2 linked regions of the Homo sapiens genome follow. The protein of the gene in region 2 binds, or shares a complex with, the protein of the main gene of each other region. Each region holds a gene or a part of one and is shown on either strand. Other genes may lie near its edges.

Region 1 (2,722 bases), on a different chromosome or scaffold from region 2:
ATAACTACGTTATACATTAGTGAATTTAAATTCACCTGAATACAAAGCATCAATTACAAAAAGCTTGTCAGTAACAACAGTAGACAAAAATGGAAGTGTAGCCAATGATGCATATGTCTTCAAAGCATCATGTTTAACCTTGAAGCAGCGTCTGAACAGGAAGTTTGAGAATATTCCAGAGAAACCAGCTGTTGTTCCAAATGTCGCCATTTGATATATATTTTGTGTCCTAATAGAAAAAAAGAAAAATTCAGTTCACTATACCATTGAACTTAATGGATACAGCCTCTCCTGAAAAGTTGTTATTGCATATCAATATCAAATATTTCTTGAGCACTTACTATATGTGAAAAGTATTTTCTAAGTGCTTAAGATAGGACAGTAAACAAAGCAAAAGAAAAAAAGAAATTTCCCACCCCTCATAGAACTTGTATTCTAATGAGAGGACATGATTCTCTTTCTAAGAATATTTACAGTAATTCTAAAATAGAGCTCTTTTAAATAATTTTGGCCACAAATAAATATAAATATGTTCCAATGCAGCCAAATTTTATGAGCTACCCAAATCCAAGAATACCTTTCCTGCAACTAAAAGATTTACTTTGCTTAAGTTCATCTAAAAAAAAGCTGTTTACATTTGGTTAGGCCTTCTATTTCTTCATTAGTCCCAGATACATTTAAAATAATTTGTCCTGAACAGACACTTCTCAAAAGAAGACATTTATGCAGCCAAAAAACACATGAAAAAATGCTCACCATCACTGGCCATCAGAGAAATGCAAATCAAAACCACAATGAGATACCATCTCACATGAATTAGAATGGCAATCATTAAAAAGTCAGGAAACAACAGGTGCTGGAGAGGATGTGGAGAAATAGGAACACTTTTACACTGTTGGTGGGACTGTAAACTAGTTCAACCATTGTGGAAGTCAGTGTCACGATTCCTCAGGGATCTAGAACTAGAAATACCATTTGACCCAGCCATCCCATTACTGGGTATATACCCAAAGGACTATAAATCATGCTGCTATAAAGACACATGCACACGTATGTTTATTGTGGCACTATTCACAATAGCAAAGACTTGGAACCAACCCAAATGTCCAGCAATGATAGACTGGATTAAGAAAATGTGGCACATATACACCATGGAATACTATGCAGCCATAAAAAATGATGAGTTCATGTCCTTTGTAGGGACATGGATGAAGTTGGAAATCATCATTCTCAGTAAACTATTGCAAGAACAAAAAACCAAACACCGCATATTCTCACTCATAGGTGGGAAATGAACAATGAGAACACATGGACACAGGAAGGGGAACATCACACTCTGGGGACTGTTGTGGGGTGGGAGGAGAGGGGAGGGATAGCTTTAGGAGATCTACCTAATGCTAAATGATGAGTTAATGGGTGCAGCACACCAGCATGGCACATGTATACATATGTAACTAACCTGCACATTGTGCACATGTACCCTAAAACTTAAAGTATAATAATAATAAAATAAAAAAAAATAAAAGGGAATGAGGGAACTTTTTGGGGATGTTGGAAGTATTCCAAATTTTAATTGTGGTGATGGTTACATAACTGTATAAATTTGCTAAAACTCATATAACTGTACACTTTAAATGGATGAATGTCAAGATATATAAATTATACTTCAATAAAGCCATAAAACAGAAAATGAAATAAAATAAAATAAAATAAAATAATTTGTCCAAGATTTATAAAACTTCATCCAAAAAAATCTGATTTAGTTTTCTTATTAAGACCCATATGTAAATCCAGGAAATAACATCAACTGTCCTTTGATTTTTTTCTTGAACTTTGTTCATTTAAAAGTCAAAATGGCCAGTCTGGCCAACATGGTTAAACCATCTCTACTAAAAATACAAAAATTAGCTGGTTGTGGTGGTACACGCCTGTAATCCCAGCTACTTGGGAGGCTGAGGCAGGAGAATCACTTGAACCTGGGAGCTGGAGATTGCAGTGAGCCGAGATTGTGCCACTGCACTCCAGCCTGGGTGACAGAGTGAGACTCTTATCTCAAAAAAAAAAGTCAATATGTTAATGTGAGACTATATTTATACCATGAAATCTGTATTCCCTTTTGCTGTACTAAGTACTGTGGCTGAGATAATCAATCCTAAACTGATTATAATTACTCACCAATTAAATATAAGTACCCCCCTCAATGGTTTTCTCCTAATTACTTTTAATTAAAATACATTTACTGCACAAAAGTTTTAGCAATACTTTTGGATACTTTTTAAGAAACAAAAGAAATTATCCACAATCCGAAATATTCCAACAAACCACCATTTTCATCTGTTCTTGTTTCCCCCATTCTTTTTTTTAAAGATGTGTTCTTCATAGCCAACTCAAAGAATAGGATCTTAGATAACAGAAAAGGTAAGAAAGAATAGGATCTTAGAAACAATGGCAATACAAAAGACTTGCAAATAAAATGACTGATTTTCAGCCTGGGCATTTCTCTTACATTTCTTTTCTAAGATAGTCAAAATTTTTTTCTATGATTTCTATGACCATTGGTCTTCTGAGTTTTGCATCTTCTAGAGAAGGACTGGGCTGACCATGCATAGATGCTGCCATCTTGAAAACCTGGAAAAAAAAATTCCAGAGCCATAATAGCTAATGATATTCATATTACATAAAACCTTACAGAATTCTACAGATTCAGATTTGAAAACATTTA
Region 2 (3,500 bases):
CACACATAATATAATTCCAAAAAATACGAACTAATCTATAGTGAGAGAAAACAGATCAGCAGTTGCCTGGAAACAGGGGGGAAATAAAAGAGGCACAAGGAAACTTTGACGGGTAATGAGTACGTTCACTTCCTCTGTTGCACTGATGGCTCCTGAGGGGTACTCTCTAAATACAGTCATGCGTCAGGTGATTCTCTCCCTGTATGAACATCAGAATGGACTTACACAACCTAGGTGGCAGAGCCTACTACACACCTAGGCTATATGGTATGGCTTATTGCTCCTAGGCTGCAAACCTGTACAGTAGGCCGGGCGTGGTGTCTCATGCCTATAATCCCAGCACTTTGGAAGGCTGAGGCGGGAGGATCACTTGAGCCCAGGAGTTGGAAACCAGCCTGGGCAACACAGTGAAACCCCATCTCACTGTTAAATATTTTTTGTTTTTTTTTTTTTAAGGAAAACAAAACAAAACAAAAAAGCTGTACAGCATATTACTGTGCTGAACACTGTAGGCAACTGTAACACAATGGTAAGTATTTGTGTATATGAACACAGCTAAACATAGAAAAGATACAGTAGAAATATGGTATGATGATCTTATGGGATCACCACTGTATATATGGTCTGTCATTGACTTGAATGTCATTATGTGTCACATGACAGTGTGTGCAATTTATTGTAAATCAATTATTCCTTAATTAAACCTGAAAAAAAAAAAAACCTGACAAACCACATAGGAAAAGTTTAAATAAAAGAACAAGAGACTATGGGAGCTAAAAAAAGATACAAATAGGAAGATAAACACTAGGAAAAAAAGCAGAAATAAGTATTTCTAAATTATAAATTATGTTTATATATAAATAAGCAACTTTTAAAACTAGCAACATATAATTTGTGATCACCAGGTGTGAAATAAGAAACAAACAAAAACCAAGCAATGTAATGACAGCTGACAATTTGGCACTTCTCAAAGAGGTTCTGGGGGACCTGAGCTGCTTCTAGGGGGTCCCACAGGATCAAAACTAGTTTTTATTTTTTTTTGAGATGGAGTCTCACTCTGTCACCCAGGCTGAAGTGCAGTGGCGCCATCCCAGCTCAATACAACCTCCACCTCCCGGGTTCCAGTGATTCTCCTGCCTCGGCCTCCCCAGTAGCTGGGATTACAGGTGGGCACCAACACACCTGGTTAATTTTTATATTTTTAGTAGAGACAGGGTTTCACTATGTTGGCCAGGCTGGTCTCAAACTCCTGACCTCAAGTGATCCACCCACGTCGGCCTCCCAAAGCGCTGGGATTGCAGGCATGAGCCACCATACCTGGCCTAAAACTACTTAAGATGTTACTTGCTTTTAAATTCTAATTCTCTGAAGACTGTACAGTGGGGCGCAGTGTAGTGTATTTAACGTTTTGGCTCAGAGTCCAATATATAGTCCAAAGTACCATGTTCCCAGAATTTATGTACGGCCTTTATATGAATAAATCTTGATCAAGGATTCAGAAAAAAGTCTTAGGTTTGCATATAAGTCACTCAAAGCAGTAAAACAGGCTACTTGGATTTCCAGCAATATTTGTGCTTTTATTCTTGGCCATTACTTTTGGGGAAGGGTTGTCTGTCCTGGTTGGTTTTCATAGAGGCCAGTTGTGGGAGGATGTGATTTTTCTGTGTCTCCAGATGACAGTGCCTCTATTTCCGTGGCACTGCTGGCTGCCTACAGCTGTCATTCCAGAGGGCCCTTTGTCCACAGTGATTAGCCTCCTCTTTGAATGTACATGAAATAGGTGTATTTTTGTATGTTCTTTTCTCTGCTTTGCCCTTGGATTTAACTTCCTTTTTGAATTCACATCATGGCAGCTGAATGAACATAGTTTTTATTCCAGCATTTGCTATTTATTCCAAGAGACCTTTGTTCCTGTGAGAGGGAGTGGGTTTGGTTTGCAGTGGTTTCTTGCATATATATATATATATATATATATTTATTTATTTTTTTATTTTTATTTTTATTTTTTTTTGAGACAGGGTCTCACTCCTGTCGCCCAGGCTGGAGCTCAATGGCATGAACACAGCTGACTACAGCCTTGACTTCCCAGGCTTGGGTACCTTCTCCCACCTCAGACTCCCAAGTAGCTGGGACTATGGGCGCGCACCACCATGCCCGGCTAATATTTTAAATTTTTAGTAGAGACAGGGTTTCGCTCCATTGCCTAGGCTGGTCTCAAACTCTGGGACTCAAGCAATCTGCCCCCCTCAGTCTTCCACAGTGCTAAGATTACCAGTGTGAGCCACCGTGCCCAGCCGGTTTCTTATATATTTACATCTCTGCAAATACAAAGATGACAGTTATTGCTGACAGAGCCCTATGTCCTGGAAGTGTGTGTTTCTTGCTTTAAATGCACGTGTCAGGACAGGTGCGGTGGCTGACACCTGTAATCCCAGCACTTTGGATTACAGGCAGATCATTTGAGGTCAGGAGTTCAAGACCAGCCTGGCCAACATGGTGAAACCCCATCTCTACTGAAAATACAAAAATTAGCCAGGCGTGGCGGTGCGTGCTATAATTCCAGCTACTCAGGAAGCTGAGGCATGAGAATCACTTCAACTGCAGAGGTTGCAGTGAGCTGAGGTCGTACCACTGCACTCCAGCCTGGGTGACAAAGCAAGAGCAAGACTGTCTCAGAAACAAACAAACAAAAAGCATGTCTGAAGATTATAAAAAAAGACAGTTAAAAAAAAAAAAAGACTGCACAGTGGACTTTTCCAGAGGTTACGTGCACAAACAGGTATGAGAATCCAGCTGTCTTCTAATAAGCCAAACATTAAAAGGACTTGCATAACTTTCAACCAATGTCACTCTTTCCATCAATTTTTTTCTTTTTTTTTTTTTAACTTACTTTTCTTTTTTTTTTCTTTTTGAGACAGAGTTTCACTCTTATTGCCCATGCTGGAGTGCAGTGGCGCGATCTCGGCTCACCGCAACCTCCGCCTCCCAGGTTCCAGCGATTCTCCTGCCTCAGCCTCCTGAGTAGCTGGGATTACAGGCATGTACCACCACGCCCAGCTAATTTTGTATTTTTAGTAGAGATGAGGTTTCTCCATGTTGGTCAGGCTGGTATCGAACTCCCGACCTCAGGTGATCCACCCACCTCAGTCTCCGTAAGTGCTGGGATTACAGGTGTGAGCCACCGCGCCTGGCCTGATTATTTTTCAAAATATTTTTCATTAGCTGGCGCGGTGGCTCACGCCTGTAATCCCAGCACTTGGGGAGGCTGAGGAAGGCAGATCATGAGGTCAGGAGTTCAAGACCAACCTGGCCAACATAGTGAAACCCCATCTCTACTAAAAATACAAAAATTACCCGGGCGTGGTGGTGCATGCCTGCAGTCCCAGATACTTGGGAGGCTGAGGCAGGAGAATCACTTGAACCTGGGAGGTAGAGGTTGCAGTGAGTCGAGATTGCACCACTGCACTCCAGCCTGGGTGACAGAGTGAGACTCTGTCTCG

Evidence for each region. Proteins that work in one complex are often made in the same cells at the same time.
Region 1: ACAD9 (region 2) and TMEM126B share a complex: the UniProt entries of both Homo sapiens proteins name them as parts of the mitochondrial complex.

The regions. Positions count from the first base shown.
Region 1 is NC_000011.10:85,631,593-85,634,314, reverse strand, and holds part of TMEM126B (complex I assembly factor TMEM126B, mitochondrial), read right to left. Parts: intron 2,629-2,722; coding exon 2,507-2,628; intron 230-2,506; coding exon 36-229; coding exon of another isoform or gene 10-35; exon of another isoform or gene 1-9. UniProt on the Homo sapiens protein: As part of the MCIA complex, involved in the assembly of the mitochondrial complex I. Participates in constructing the membrane arm of complex I.
Region 2 is NC_000003.12:128,886,120-128,889,619, reverse strand, and holds part of ACAD9 (complex I assembly factor ACAD9, mitochondrial), read right to left. Parts: intron 1-3,500. UniProt on the Homo sapiens protein: As part of the MCIA complex, primarily participates in the assembly of the mitochondrial complex I and therefore plays a role in oxidative phosphorylation.